Regions from separate parts of the Homo sapiens genome. Here region 2 is linked to region 1. A link means that fine-mapping ties the variant in region 1 to the expression of a gene that starts in the linked region. Tissue or cell type: stomach. Region 1 holds a variant in brackets; the other region holds the start of a gene. All regions are shown on one strand. Distances are between the middles of the regions.

Evidence for each region. PIP is the estimated chance that this variant, and not a neighbour inherited with it, causes the effect.
Region 2: ZC3HAV1L starts here. The variant in region 1 is fine-mapped to the expression of ZC3HAV1L in stomach (GTEx, PIP 0.95).

Annotation. Positions count from the first base shown.
Region 1 is chr7:138,126,186-138,134,291 of GRCh38, forward strand. No RefSeq gene overlaps it. Among named protein-coding and RNA genes, the nearest start is that of MIR4468, 6.5 kb to the left of the region's middle. RefSeq lists an enhancer at 5,887-6,463. The variant G/A (reference allele first, on the strand shown) is at 4,408.
Region 2 is chr7:139,032,964-139,041,069 of GRCh38, forward strand. ZC3HAV1L (ZC3HAV1 like) reads right to left here and starts at 3,079. Exons shown (of 5, transcript NM_080660.4): 1 at 2,690-3,079; 2 at 1,580-1,715. The coding sequence starts at 3,054. LOC107986852 (a long non-coding RNA gene) reads left to right here and starts at 3,220. Exons shown (of 2, transcript XR_007060557.1): 1 at 3,220-3,408; 2 at 3,690-3,987. RefSeq lists silencers at 2,392-2,911, 3,162-3,371 and an enhancer at 2,486-3,405.

The DNA.
Region 1 (8,106 bases):
TTTAGCTTCCTGCTTCCCTCACTTCAGATTCCCAAAAAAATGATATAGTAGAAATCTCCATCAGCACTGAAAATTAAGAAGGTTGCTGCCTATCAGAGGGTGTAAATGAGAAGAAACTGTCAAAGTATAATTTTTTACAAATCAGGCCGGGCATGGTGGCTCACACCTGTAATCCCAGCACTTTGGGAGGCCAAGGCAGGCAGATCACCTGAGGTTGGGAGTTCGAGACCAGCCTGACCAACATGGAGAAACCCCGTTTCTACTAAAAATACAAAATTATCCAGGCGTGGAGGCGCATGCCTGTAATCCCAGCTACTCGGGAAGGCTGAGGCAGAAGAATTACTTGAACCTTGGAGGCAGAGGTTGTGGTGAGCTGAGATTGCGCCATTGCACTCTAACCTGGGCAACAAGCGCGAAGCTCCATCTCAAAAAAAAAAAAAATCAAAAATATGATTTTTATGTAAATACAAAATGAGTACATACCAGTGATTTAATTATCTCATTAATGATGGAAACAGAAAAACGGTAAGAGAAATACCAAGAGAATTGGAGAAAGTAAAATGTTTCAGCAGCTGAAAGAAAGGATGCTTGGATCAAATTGCTCATTTAGCTCCAAACCAGTTTAGCCTTCTGAAAGGCAATACAACTATATAACTTTTGAGTTTATCTTTTCTACCAGATTTAATAATTTATATCTCTACAATAAAAGATCCATTTGCATTGTTATTGGACAAGAATCATTTTCATCACTACCAGGTTTCTATTAGTTAATAACTACTCTTACAAAATTGTAAATTACCCTATTAAACAGTTCACTCAGCTGACCTGGGAAATCCAAACCCTGCACCTTCCAAAGAAAGGTCTGGCCATTAACCACTTATTGGGAGATAACCTCTAAGCCCTTGGAATGTCATTCCTGAGAAGAATGTCTTTGCTTATCTGGGGCTTTGGGCCACACTAGACAGTTTATGCTAACAATGTGATTTATGAAGGGGGGTGGGGAGGCAGGTGGCTACATGATGTCAGTTTGACTCCAAAGGGCTGGAGACTGAGTAACTAAGGTCAGCTATGTGGGCACTCCAAGCCTATATGACTGACCCCCAATAAAAACCCTGGATCTAGGGCCGGGCGTGGTGGCTCACACCTGTAATCCCAGCACTTTGGGAGGCCGAGGCGGGCGAATCACAAGGTCAGGAGATCGAGACCATCCGGGCTAACATGGTGAAACGCTGTCTCTACTAAAAATACAAAAACTTAGCCGGGCATGGTGGCGGGTGCTGGTGGTCCCAGCTACTCGGGAGGCTGAGGCAGGAGAATGGTATGAACCCGGGAGGCAGAGCTTGCAGTGAGCCGAGATCGTGCCACTGCTTCCAGCCTGGGTGACAGAGCGAGACTCCGTCTCAAAAACAAAAAAAAACAAAAAACGCTGGATCTCAACGTTTAGATAAGTTTCCCTGGTTGACAATACTACTTACGTGTTGTCACACATCACTGCTGGAAAAGTTAAGCACTATCTATACAACTCCACTGAGAGAGAACAAGTAGAAATTTGTGCCTGGTCTCTCTCTTGGACTCTGCCATATTGTCCTTTTACCTTGGATAATAAATCTAAATTCTTTTTCTATAATAAACCATAACTATGAGTAGAACAGCTTTTCTGAGTTCTGTGGTTCCTTCCAGCAAATTATTGAACCCGAGGGTGGTCTTAGGAACCCTATACCACAAATAATTAACAGCAAATCAAAAAAAGTTACAAAGTTTCCCCTGAGGGGAATCAGTCCTTGAGGAAGCCTGCTAGACAATCCCCACAACACTGAAAGTCGACACATTTTTTTTTCATCCACTTTCAAATTTTAGATAATTTTTCTTAATGTATCTTAGAGAAAATACGAAGTGTGAGACTTTAATGAGCTGTGGCAGGAATACAATAATACCTTTAATGTCATGACAGGCCCTTACCTACTCTACAAATTTGTGGTAACAAAGTATATTGAAAACTGTATGAATCACCCTGATGCCCACAGAAAATAGATGACTGTGCACACTGAGCACTACTGAATTCACATCCCTTGATAAAGAATTTTGCCTTCATATTAAACTATTTGTAATTTATGTTGTTATACATATATATGAGTATATATAAATACACACACTCACAGTAAAGTACATAAAGTACACTAATCTGAAATGTACAGCTCAGTGATATTTTTTACATATATACACACCTGTATTATTCCATTCTTGCATTGCTATAAAGAAATACCTGAGATGGGGTAATTTATAAAGAAAAGAGGTTTAACTGGCTCACAGTTCCACAGGCTGTACAGGAAGAATGATGCTGGCCATCTGCTCAGCTTCTGGGGAGGCCTCAGGAAACTTGCAATCATGGCGGGAGGTGAAGGAGAAGCAGGCTCATCTCACATGGCCCAGGCAGGAGCAAGGGAGTGCAGTGGGGGTTGGGGAGGTGCCACACACTTCTCAACAACCAGATTTCATTAGAACTCTTATCAAGAGAATAGCACCAAGGGAATGATGTTAAACCATTCATGAAGGATCCACCCCCATGCCCCAATCACCTCCCACCACGCCCCACCTCCAACACTGGGGATTACAATTTGACATGAGATTTGGGTGGAACACAGATCCAAACCGTATCATTCTGCCCCTGGCCCCTCCCAAATCTCATGTCCTTCTCACATTTCAAAATACAATCATGCCCTCCCAACAGTCCTTCAAAGTCTTAACTCATTCCAGCATTAACTCAAAAGTCCACAGTCTCATCCGAGACAAAGCAAGTCCCTTCCACCTACGAGCCTGTAAAATAAAAAACAAGTTAGTCACTCCTAATATAGGCATTGGGTAAATACTCCTGTTCCATAAGGGAGAAATTGGCCAAAATAAAGGGACCACAGGCCCCATGTAAGTCCAAAACCCAGCAGGGCAGTCATTAAATCTTAAAGCCCCAAAATAATCTCCTTTGACTCCATGTGTCACATCCAAGACACACTGGTGGAAGGGTTCCCCCAAAGCCTTGTGCAGCTCCACCCCTGTGGCTTTGCAGAGTTCATCCCTTTCAGCTGCTCTCAAGGGCTGGCATTGAGTGCCTGAAGCTTTTCCAGGCTCAGGGTGTGAGCTGTCAGTAGCTCTACTATTCAGAGGTCTGGAGAATGGTGGCCTTCTTCTCACAGCTCCACTAGGCAATGCCCCAGTGGGGACTCTGTGGGGGCTCCAACCCCACATTTCTCCTCTGCACTGCCCTAGTAGACGTTCTCCATGAGGGCTATGCCTCTGCAATGGGCTTCTGTCTGGACATCAAGGCTTTTCTATACATCTTCTGAAGTCTAGGCAAAAGCTCCCAAGACTCAACTCTTATATTCTGTGCACCTGAAGGCTTAACACCACATGGAAGTCACCAAGGCTTACAGATTGCACCCTCTGAAGCAGAGGCCCAAGCTGTTCCTGGTCCCCTTTGATCCACGGCTGGAGCTGGAGTGACTGGGATGGAGGGAGCAGGGTCCCAAGGTTGTACAGGGTAGTGGGGCCCAGGGCCTGGCCCACAAAACCATTCAGTCCTGCTATGCCTCTGGGCCTGTGATGGAAGTGGCTGCGAAAGTCTCTGAAATGCCTTCAAGACCTCTTGCCCATTGTCTTGGCTGTTAGTACTTGGCTCCTCTTTACTTATGCAAACTTCTGCAGCCTGCTTGAATTCTTCCCCTGAAAAATGGGTTTTTCTTTTCTGCCACATGGCCAGTCTGCAGGTTTTCCAAACTTTTATGCTGTGCTTGCGTTTTAAATATAAGTTCCAGTTTCAGATCATTTCTTTGCTCATGCATATAAGCATAAGTGGTGAGAAGCAGCCAAACCACATCTTGAATACTTTGCTGCTTAGAAATTTCTTCCACCAGATACCCTAAATCATCACTCTCAAGTTCAAAGTTCCACAGATCCCTAGAGCAGGGGCACAATGCAGCCAGATTTTTTGCTAAAGCATAGCAAAAGTGACCATTACCCCAGTTCCCAATACATTCTTCAGTTCCATATGAGACCTCCTCAGCCTGGACTTCATTGTTCATATCACTGTCAGCCTTTTGGTCACAAGAATTTAACAAGTCTCTAGGAAGTGCCAAATTTTTCCTCATCTTCCTGTCTTCTTCTGAGCCCTCCACACTCTTCCAACCTCTGCCCATTACCCAGTTCCAAAGTCACTTCCACATTTTCAGGTATCTTTATAGCAATGCTCCACTCTTCAGTACCAATTTTTGTATTAGTTCATTCCTGCACTGTTATAAAGAAATACCTGAGACTGGTAATTTATAAAGAAAAGAGGTTTAATTGGCTCATGGTTCCAGAGGCTGTACAGGAAACATGATGCAGGCTATCTGCTCAGCTTCTAGGGAGGCTTCAGGA[G/A]ACTTACAATCACGGCAAAACACAAAGGAGAAACAGGCTCATCTTATACAGCCAGAGCAGGAACAAGAGAGGGCAGGAGAGAAGTGCTACATACTTTTAAACAGCAAGATTTCATGAGAACTCTATCACTAGAACAGCACCACGGGGGTGGTACCAAGCCATTCATGAAGGATCCACCCCTTCATGATCCAATTACCTCCTACCAGGTCTCCCTTTTAACATTGGGGATTACAATTAGACATGAGATTTGCGGGGGGACACAGATCCAAACCATACCAACACCCATGTCACTGACACCCAGATCAAGAGATAAAATATTTCCAGCACTCCAGGAGGTTCTCACCTGCTTCTCAATTCATGTCCTCCTTCCAGAGAAACCAGGATATTATGACTTCTCTTATTTGTGGCATTTACTAACTTTCTTAGCAAAGAAACTTCAGCTTTGTTTAGTTCCCAGTGATTGCAAAGTGGTATATCCTGAAGATTATTGGAAAACGACATGAGGGCTAGATTCTGTTATTTGTAGACTTTTTTATGCAAAAATAATTTGAGCTTAGTCATGCTTTTATACAAGTAATGTATTTTTGTTTTATTTTTATAATATATATCAGAAGAAAAGGGACAGACATGATGTTCATGCCTGTAATCCCAACACTTTGGGAGGCCGAGGCAGGAGAACCACTTAAGGCCAGGAGTTCAAGACCAGCACAACATTGTGAGATCTCACCTACACAAAAGAAGAAGAAGAATCTGAGACTTTGTTGGGATGTTTTGTTTCTTTGTTGCCTTTTGTCTAAAAACTTATTTACTAAAGATTTAGACCAAAATTCATAATTACTATGTTTATAAATAATAATCTAAGACTAGAAACTATGGACATACAATCCCCTAGGTATAGTTATGTAATCTTTTGGTTAATCTAACCTTGATTTCATCACTAAACTTGGCTATATCTCAAATAATTTTTTAAATATTTTCTTTTTTTTTCTTCAGTTGTTCTTACTGGAGATTTTCTGTTTCAGAAATCTCTGCCTAACATTATTCATGTGTGGCTAAGAATCCATAGGTGGCTTTTTCCCCTATATTTTTAGCTTTCTTCAGGTATAACTGACATATAAAAATTGTATATGTTCAAGGTATATAATGTGATATTTTGATATACCTATACATTGTGAAATGATTTGCACAATTAAGCTAATTAACGTATCCATTATCTCACAGTTACCTTTTCCTTTGATTTTTCTTGTGTGTGTGTGTGTGTGTGTGTGTGTGTGTGTGTGTTGAGAATACTCAAGCTCTATCTTAGCAAATTTCAAGTATACAATATAGTATTATTGACCATAGTCACCATGCCATACCTTAGGTCTCCAGAACTTATTCATCTTCTAACTGCAAGGTTGTATCCTTTGACCAACATCTCCTCATTTCTCCCCTACCTCAACCCTGTTACTACCCTTCTATTCTTTGTTTCTATGGGTTCAGCTATTTTAGATTCCACATGTAAGTATTCATCTTCTTATATCTGACATTTAATTAGCAAAATCTCCTCCAGATTCATCCATGTTGTTGCAAAAGGTAGGATTTCTTTCTTTGTTCAGGCTGAATAATAGTTTGTTATAATAAGTGTGTGTATGTATACTTGATATATATATCAAGTATAAATATATATTTGGTCTCTGTCCCTGGTTCCTGGCACACAGCTGCTAAAATCCTTGGAATCTACAAAGTGATATGTCTTTTTGTATGCTAATGAGATGGCTGATCACTGAGTACTCCAAATAACCACAGGATAGTTGCCAGGGCTGCCAACTATGTGATTGGAGGGTTAAAACTTTCAGCCCCACCCCCACCTCTAGGAAGCGGAGAGGGGTTAAAGGTTGATTTGGTCATCAAAGACCAATCATACCTACCTAATGAAGTATGTGTGTATTACACATATATATGTATAATTTCCTTGTCCATTCACCCACTGACAGACATTTAGATTGTTTCTGTATCTTCGCTATCATGAAAAATGCTGCTGCAATGAACATGGGAGTCCAGATATCCACCTTTTTCAAGATCCTGATTGTGGTTCTTTTGGATATACCCAAAAGTGGGATTGCTGCGTCATGTGGTAGTTTTATTTTTAATTTTTTGAGCACCCTTTATACTGTTTCCCACAGTGGCTGCACCATTTCACATTCCCACCAATAGCGTACAAGAGTTCCAGTTTCTCCACATTCTTGCCAATACTTGATATCTTTCATGGTTTTGATAATTGCCATTTATTGCCTTTTTCTGTTGAGTATTTGTATGTCTTCCTTGGAAAAATATCTGTTCAGGTTCTTTGCTCATTTTAAAATCAGGTTGTTTTTCTACTACTGAGTTGTAAGAGTTCCTTATATATTTTGGATATAAACTCCTTATAGGATCTATGGTTTGTGCATATTCTCTCTCATTCTGTGGGCTGACTTTTCGTTTTGCTGATTGTTTCCTTTGCTTTGCAGAAACTTTTTACTTTGATATAATCCTGCCTGCTTATTTTTGCTTTTGTTGCTTGTGCTTTTGGTGTCATTGACAAGACCTCTGTCATAGAGCTTTTCCCCTATATTTTCTTTTAGGAATTTTATGGTTTCAGATCTTGCATTTAAATCTTTAATCAAGTTTGAGTTGATTTTTGTGCATGGTGTAAGATAAGAATCCAATTTCATTTTTTTGTTTCTTTTTGAATGTGGATATCCAATTTTCCCAACATCATTCACTGAAGAGACTATTCTCTCTGCATTGTATATTCTTGGCATCTTTATTGAAGATTACTTGATCATATATGTATTGGTTTATTTATTGGTTTCCTGTTACATCCCATTGGTTTATGTGTGTTTGTTTTTATGCTTGTATCATATTGCTTTAGTTACTATCACTTTGTAATGAAATTTGAAATCAGAACACAAAGCCTCCAGCTTTGTTCTTCTTGATCAAGATTGCTTTAACTATTCAGGGTCTCTTGAGGTGCCATATAAATGTTATGATTTTTTTTCTATTTCCATGAAAAATGACATTGGCATTTTCATAGGAATTGCATTAAATCTATAGATCACTTTCAGTAATATAGACAAGTTTCCAATATTGATTCTTCTGATCCATAAACATGAAATACCTATTTATTTGTGTCTTCTTCAATTTTATTCATTAATTCATTATGTTTCATAGTTTTCAGTATACAGATATTTCACCTTTTTGGTTAAATTTATTTCTAATTATTTTATTCCCGTTGATGCTATTATAAATGTGACTTTTTAAAAAATTTCTTGTTCAGATAGTTTATTGCCAAAGTATAGAAACACAAGTGATTTTTATATGTAGATGCTGTATCCTAAAACTTAACTGAATTCATTTATTAATTCTAACACTTTTGGGTAGAATCTTTAGGTTGTTCTATACATAAAATCTTGTAATCAGCAAACAGAGACATTTTGACTTCTTTTCTGATTTGGATGACTTTTATTTCTTTATGTTGCCCAATTCCTTTGGCTAGGACTTCAGTACTATGTTGAAAAAAAAAGTGGTGAGAGTGAGTGTAATATTGTGATATAATAAAATATATATATACTTGGTCTCTGTCCCTGGTTCCAGGCACAAAGCTGCTAAAATCCTTGAAATCTGCAAAGCGATATGTATTTTTGTATGCTAATGAGATGGCTGATCACTGAGTACTCC
Region 2 (8,106 bases), 910 kb after region 1:
TTAGGAGGCTGAGGCAGAGGGATCACTTGAGGTCAGGCATATAAGACCAGCCCGGCCAACATGGTGAAACGCTATCTCTACCAAAAAGTACAAAAATTAGCTGGGCATGGTGGCACGTGCCTGTAGTCCCAACTATTCAGGAGACTGAGGTGGGAGAATCACTTGAACTCAGGAGGCAGAGGCTACAGTGAGCCGAGGTACTTCCAGCCTGTGTGAGAGAGTAAGACCCTGTCTCAAAAAAAAAAAAACTATATAAGTCTGATGTTTTCTTGTGCAAGCCTTCTAACTAATGCTTTGAGGTTTGTTTAATGCTTTTATTTTAAAAATTTTTATGACACTATTTTGGCTTTCCGTTTCTTCTTGAATCCATTTTGACAAGCTGTATTTTTCTAGAAATTTGTCCATCAATGCACCAGCATGAAACTTTACCTGTCTATTGTCTTTTTTATTGAGAGAGTGGTAAAAGCAATCATCAGGCATTTCATACAAGAGATGTGAGGCACCATTCTTGCCTCATGCACTGTGTTTTTCCACAGTCCCTGCTGCCCACATGATCACGTTTTGTGCCACATGTCACCTACTTCCAGTCCCAGGTGATGGGGACAAGTGGAGGCACAGGGGAGGCTCCTGTTGTAAGTGCAGCCAACCCATCAGCTGCTCACAAAACACTGAAGTAGTCTAATATGACAAGGTGAGGCTGGGCCCAAGATACATCCTAAAAAAGGGCATACCAAAAAAACATTCGATAGATTTGACAAAATAAAAACACTAAACTTCTATAAATCAAAAAGTACTATAAAATTAAAAGGCAAATAGCAGCGGCACCACGCCTTCTCTCTGAGACAGGAAGGACTGGACCCAGCCTCATAGGTGCAGCCACCCTCCTCTCCCTTCCTGCCAATAACCTGCTTCAGCTACTGCTTGCATCTACTTTGGGCAACATGGTTGGTTGGAATGCCTCTGGCTCACAACCGTGACATACCAGACTTGGCTTCAGTGCTCGAAGAAATGAAACAGGTTATGCATGTCAGGAAGAAACCTGCTTGTTCCTGAGATCAACTCCAGGACTGCCTTCTGGGTACAGATTCTGCTGCCTTGAGAGCAGCCTCTGCCACCTGCACCAAAGGCTCCAGCTCCTACCTCTAGTCTTGTGGCTATCTTCCTTTCTAGACGCTGAAATGCATTAGAGTTAAAATCAGGCCACAATTATGAACTATCCTCTGTTTTCTCAACATCTCCCCTTCTTCCCATCCCTCTTCTGGCCAAGTGGAGGTGTCTATGATAGCATCACTGTGCTAGATTAGAAAATCTTGCTTTTAATTGGTGGTCTTAATTGATGTTCCAATTTTCTCTTGGGATTTGTACTATTTTGTTTTTAAAACTTCTTTGTGTATGGCTAAACTGAAACAAACGTACTATTTCGCCATGATAGCAATTATAAAGGGTACCTTTAAAGCATTTGAAACTGAATCATGTTGCTTCGAAGGCAATTAAAATTAATATGTAAAGCCAAAAGAAAAATAAATGGGGAAAGTACTTGTAGCAAATGTGACATGAGGGTGACTCCTTGGTGACTCACCTCTGGTAAAAGACAGGGGTCATTCTGCAAAAGCAGGATCCGAAGCTGGTTTTCATTGAGACCAAAAAGTCCATGGCTTTTCAGGACCTGCATGTTGACAGGTGTGTGGATATCATGGGAAAGGGTACAGGTAGACCTAAAAGAACAAAGCCCTCGGTCAGATGCCCAGGTGAAGAAGGACCAGTCTGTCCAATTCCTTGCCTTGAGCAGCTTTCAATGTATTTAATACATGTGAAGTTGAGTAATTTTCATGAAACCGGGGATAGTATGGCCTAATAAGCACTGATGGAAAATAAGAAAATTGGGTTGAAGGAACTCCTCTCCCAGGGTCATTTGAATTTTCAGTAGGGATGCTTTGAAGCCAAGGGTCGCCCACCTCGCCTGAGGATGCACATCTGTTCCGTAGGCGACTGCACCTGGCCTTCTCCCCGGCAACAGCTGCCACAGTCCACCAACGTTAAAAAGAAAGCGCCCCTATCCCCAGCACCGCTTTGGCGGGGTGTGTGGCTAGAGACAACCAAGGAAAATTCGGGGCTGTGAAGCACAGCCTGGGGTCAGGAGGCAGCCCCGAACCCCAGCTCTGGCAGTCAGGAACCACAGGGCCTCACCCAAGCCATCCAGCCCTGTTTCCTGGGGTGAGACTGGCTCAGCGCTGTTAAACCTAGAGGGCGCAGACCCGCTTCTGCACAAGTGTGTGGATATGGGGGAGCAGCGATTTCCGGCTAAAGGGTCCAGGGATCTCATGGGATCCTCAGACGCCCCACGCCCCCCACCTCCCGCCAAATATCACCAGAATAAGTGAGCTCCGAAGTCCCAGTCCGGATTTAACCCGGCCGCGTCGCGCAGGATCCGGGGGGGCGGGCGGGGGCAGCAACTTTTCTGGCGTGGGCGGTTGAGACGTCTCCATGGAGAGGACCTTCGCGCCTTTCCGCCCAGCTGCTGGAAGCGCGGGGGAGGACGCCCAGGAAAGGCCTGCGGGAGGGGGTCGTCCAGCCCCGCGTCCCCGGCCCGGGGCAGGACGAAGCCCCCCTTCCCGTCGCTCCCGCTTCCAGCAGGACGGCCAGGCCCGCGGCCAGCGCCCACAGTCCCCGCCCGCCGCCGCCTTCTCACCAGCAGTCCCGGTTGGGGCACTTGCCCAGCATGTGCCGGCGGCAGAAGTGCAGCTGGTCGCAGGCCTGGCACTCGCCGCGCTGGTAGCGGGCGCAGAGGCGCACAGAGGACACGGCCACCACCCTCCAGGCGGAGGTGCCGCCACCGCCCACCGCGCCGGCCGCCGCCTCGGCCTCCGCGTCCCCGAGGCCCTCCTGCGTCTCCACCTCCTGCAGCAGGAAACGCTCGGGCCCGGCGCGCTGCAGCACGTCCCGGAGCCTGGCCTCCGACAGCTCCACGTGGCCGCGCAGGTCCTTCAGGAACATGCGGCCGCCGTGGGCGCACAGCACCTTGGTGAGGAAGGAGCACACTGTGGGCTCCGCCATGGTCGCTGGCGCGGGCCCTGTGCGCGCGGCGCAGCGAGCCGGGGCGGGCAGGCTCCTCCCAGTCACGTCCACGATTTCCAGCGAACAGCCCGGGGATGGGCCTGGGCCTGGCGAGGGGTGGGCCTGCGGGAGGCCGGGCGAGGGGCGGCCCCGGCGCGTGGAAGCAGGGTACGGCGCCTGCGGATCCCCTGGACGTGGACTCAGGCGGGGACAGCGTTGATGGAGCGTCTGCTCCGCCCAGGCACCGTTCAGGGCGAAGCCTGGCCTTGAGGGGCTTGTATAGTGGGAGTCACAAAGGACTCGCCAACAAGACAACTGGTAGTGCTAGGGAGGCCTGCGGAGAAGGAGAAATAGGTAAAAGGTGGTAGGAGGTGAGTGGCCGGGCTGCTTCGCGGGAGGTGGCCACTAGCCACATGTGGCTGCTGAGCACTTCTGGGATTTTTTGTTGTTGTTGTATTTTTATTTTTGGAGACAAGGCCTCACGTTATCGCCCAGGCTGGAGTGCAGTGGCGCTATCGTAGTTCGCTGCAGCCTGGAACTCCTGGGCTCAAGCGATCCTCCCACCTCAGCCTCCTGAGTAGCTGAGACCGAAGGTTCGCATCACTAATTTTTTTGGTTTTTGTTTTGCTTTGTAGAAACGGGGTCTCCTCATGTTGCCCAGGCTGGTCTCGAACTCCTCAAGCGATCCACCTGCCTCAGCCTCCCAGAGCACTGGAATTACAGGCGTGAGCCACCCCGCGGGGCCTGCTGAGCTTTATTGGAAAGTGGCTAGTCCGAATTGAGATGTGATATAAGTGTGAAATACACACACTAGATTTTGAGGACTGAGAATGAGAAAAAGAATGTAAAATATCTCACTAACTTTATATGAATCACATGTTAAACATAATATTTTGGATATATTTGGATAAATAAAATGTTATGACAACTTCATGTGTTGCTTCTACTTTCCTAATGTAGCTATGAGGAAATTTTACATTGCAAATGTGGATTACCTTATTTTTGTTGAGCAGCACCAGTCTAGACCTGCCTTAAGCATCCATGCTTTTTGTCCAACACCTTGCTTGTTTCATGAACGTTTGTTGAGCCAACTACTAACGCAGTGACAGTACAAAGATGAATCAGACCATCAGAGAACTCAGCCAGCCTAGCTGCTATTTTGCAAGGTGCTCGTGAGGATTAAATGCATTAATGTCATGTAATGTAAAGAAGCTAGAGAGGAAGACAACTGGCCAGATGCCAGAAGACCTTCTCTGCCATGCTGTGAAATTTGGACTTATATCCCGAGAACTTTGGGAAGTCACTAAAGGATTTTCATCTGGGAAGTGTGGATGTCTCCTGAGTGCCACTCAAGGTGTGTCATTCAGCTCTGAGCTTTAATGTCTTCTCTTCAGCAAAACCTTTCCTGACCTCTCAAATCTAAAGTAGCTCCCCAGTCTGCATGGAACTTACCACTGATATTTTTCTTCTTTATTGTGTATTTATATATTTAGCTATAGAATTCAGGCTCATGAAAGCAGGAACCTTGTTTTGTTCATTGCTGTATCCCTACCACCTAAAATAGTACCTGGCCATATTGTAGGATAGGTGTTTTAGAAAGACCCCTGGCAGCAATGAGAAGAATGGATTTCTAGAAAAGCAAGACGAGGTGGGGAATAACAGAAAATAAACAGGATTTGAGGGACTATAACCCCAGTGTTATTTATGTTGAGAGTTTGCAGTGGACAACCCAAGGTAAGACGCTCAACAGGCAGGTGTATTCTGTATACAGGTCTAGACCTTGAGGGACATGAGAAGGGAAGGGATGTAGATTTGCGTGACATCAGAGCATTAGGTAACTGAGAGTTGATAAGATCACCTGGCAAAAATGAAGAGTGTGAAAAGGTGGGGGACGGGGGGAAAGAAGCTTGGCGAATACCCACATTAAATAAGCAAGTGGGGGAAGAGAAAAATAGGCAGTAGCCTACGTCCCCTTGGCACTCAGCATTTGTTCCTGAACTCTCTGCCTAAGCTTTTTCCAACAGAAGGAGGAAGCAGCCAGCAGGAAAGGCAGGCTGGAATTACCAAGGAGCCAACACCTCCAGGAAGAGCCTTCATCCAGGGATGTTGGGGAATTGGTGGTTTGAGGATGCACTCTCAACCCTAAAATTGGCATGAGGATTATTTTAAACTAAAGACATGTAAGATTCAATAGAGGCAAAAAGAAGCCTTCTTGAAGCTTCCTTTATTTCAGTAAAAGCAGAATCTTCTGGGAGTGAGGTTGCCATTCATCCCCTCTCCAGGGGTTTATGGACATGAAATAGAAAACCACGTGCACCTGCATAAACAACTTCCCTATGAACACAAACTTCCTTATCTCCTGTTTGTTCCCTAGAAACCCCTTTGTTCTTCCCATAGGAGCCTTTTTGCCCCCCTCTCTCCCCTATTAAGTTAGGTAAATAAATCATCATCACTTCTTTTGTGCAGTGCCATATGCATATATGTTTTTTCTCTTGTCAGTTAAATTTGCAGCCCCTCAGAACTGAACATAAGAGAGTGCAGGAAAAGTTTTTCCTCCCCAACAATGGATCAAACAGCCCAACTCATTCCTCGTGTGGAACCACTTGGAGGTGTACATTCCATGGTCTCCCAATGTTTCCTCAATGGAACTGAACCCCAGTTGCCCACAGCCACACCTGCTCATTAGCACTCCCCATACAGTCTTCCTTCCTTTCCTTGCCCTACCTCCCCATTCCCCTGCCAGTGTTTCTTAGGATCACCTCCCAAGTAAACTGTGTGCATTCAATCCTTGTCAGATTGCTCCTGAGAGAACATAGCCTAACATATAAACTGATAAGGAGAGGTTAGAGAAAAATGAGAGTCATTCATGGACACGCAGAGGAGAGAGTTTCAAGGAGAAAGTGATCAGCATGGTGAGATACTACAGGGAGGAGCTTTCCTACAAGGGAAAGCTTGTAGACAGTGATAACCTAGGCAGGTTTATTTCAGAGGAATAATGAGAAAAGGTAGATTTCTGTAGGTTAAAAAAAGAAGAATAGAAAAACCGAGGACTTTACTTCTAAAAGTAAGTAAGGTAATGATAATAAGAGGAAGACACAAGACTGAGAAAGGTATTTTATTATAGGAGAGACAAGCATAGTTACATGCTGAGTAGAAAGAGCCAGTAAGACCGGGCGCGGTGGCTCACGCCTGTAATCCCAGCACTTTGGGAGGCCGAGGCGGGCAGACCACGAGGTCAGGAGTTCGAGACCATCCTGGCTAACATGGTGAAACCCCATCTCTACTAAAAGTACAAAAAATTAGCCAGGCGTGGTGGCGGGCGCCTGTAGTCCCAGCTACCCGGGAGGCAGAGACAGGAGAATGGAGTGAACCCAGGAGGCGGAGCTTGCAGTGAGCCAAGATCGTGCCACTGTACTCCAGCCTGGAGAACAGAGTGAAACTCCGTCTCAAAAACAAAACAAAGAGAAAAGAAAGAGCTAGTAAGAATGGAAAGTTGAAAATAAAGGAGGCCAGGTGCGGTGACTCATGCCTGCAGTCCCAGCATTTTGGGAGGCTGAGGCAGGAGAATCACTTGAGTCCAGGAGTTTGAGATCAGCCTGGGCAACATGGTAGAACCCTGTCTCTACTAAAAATGCAAAAATTAGCTAGGCATGGTGGCATGTGCCTGTAGTCTCAGCTACTCAGGAGGCTGAGGTGGGAGGATTGCTTGAGTCTAAGAGGTCAGAGGCTGCAGTGAGCCAAGATCGTGCTACTGCACTCCAGCCTGGGCGACAGAAAAAGGTAGGAAGGAAGGGAAAGGAAAGAAAAGGAAGGAGAGAGAGAAGAAAAAAAGAAAGAATATAAAGGAAAGGGGAATTGTAATCAGCGGGGGATGTCCATAGGCAGTGAGATAGAATGGGAGACGTCAGAGGAACTAACCTCCGACAGGAGGGGAGATGCTTCTTCCATTCACACAACAGGAAAGGAGACAAGGATTAGAGCATCTAAAGACAAGTTTGTAGGCTTTGTTTTGTTTTGTTTTTTTAAGTTTAAGGCAAAACCAAGAATGGATGGTGGAGAGTCACTTCAGGAGACCATAAAGGCTTGACAAAGCTGACTTGTGGAGAGGGGAGAAGGCTGACAGGTAGGACCAGTGGGCATGGGCAGGGCCTTACCAAGGCCACAAATTCGTAGTGGCATTGATCCAAACAGTGCTGCAATTCTCCTAAAAGCTCTCAAGGTGTAAGAACAGAATTTGATTGATTCACTTTTAGGTTTTGCCAGTGGGTGAGACTTAAGGTCAAAGGTTCTAGATGATTGAGGTATGAATTGAAAGAGTGATCAGGGGGCTGGGTGCAGTGGCTCATGCCTGTAATCCCGCCACTTTGGGAGGCTGAGGCAGGTGGATCACCTGAGGTCGGGGATTCAAAACCAGCCTTAGCAAAGTGGTGAAACCCTGTCTCTACCCAAAATTACAAAAATTAGCCAGGTGTGGTGGCACACGCCTGTAATCCTAGCACTTTGGAAGGCCGAGGCAGGAGGATCACTTGAGGTCAGGAGTTCGAGACCAGCCTGGCCAACATATTGAAACCCCATCTCTACTAAAAATTAGCCAGGATGGCAGTGGGTACCTGTAATCTCAGCTACTCAGGAGGCTCAGGTGGGAGAATCACTTGAACCTGGGAAGCGGAGGCTGCAGTGAGTTGAGATCACACCACTGCACTCCAGCCTAGGAGACAGAGTGAGGCGCCGTTTCAAAAAAAAAAAAAAGAAGAAAAGAAAGAGTGGTCAGGGGCTGAACAATGGGCTGGAGACTAGGTAAGGGAGGAGTGAAGACAGCAAGGGGCTATATGTGAGCAGAGAAAGACGACGTACGAAATGTAGGAGGGCCAGAGAGCTCAAAAGCAGGCTGGGGTCAGAGGTAGAATATAGAGGTTTGGGATTTCAGAAACAGCAGTTCTAGGCCATTTGCAGTGATTCGTGCCTGTAATCCCAGCACTTTGGGAGGCTGAGGCAGGAGGATCAGTTGAGGTCAGGAATTCAAGACCAGCCTGGCCAACATGTCGAAACCCA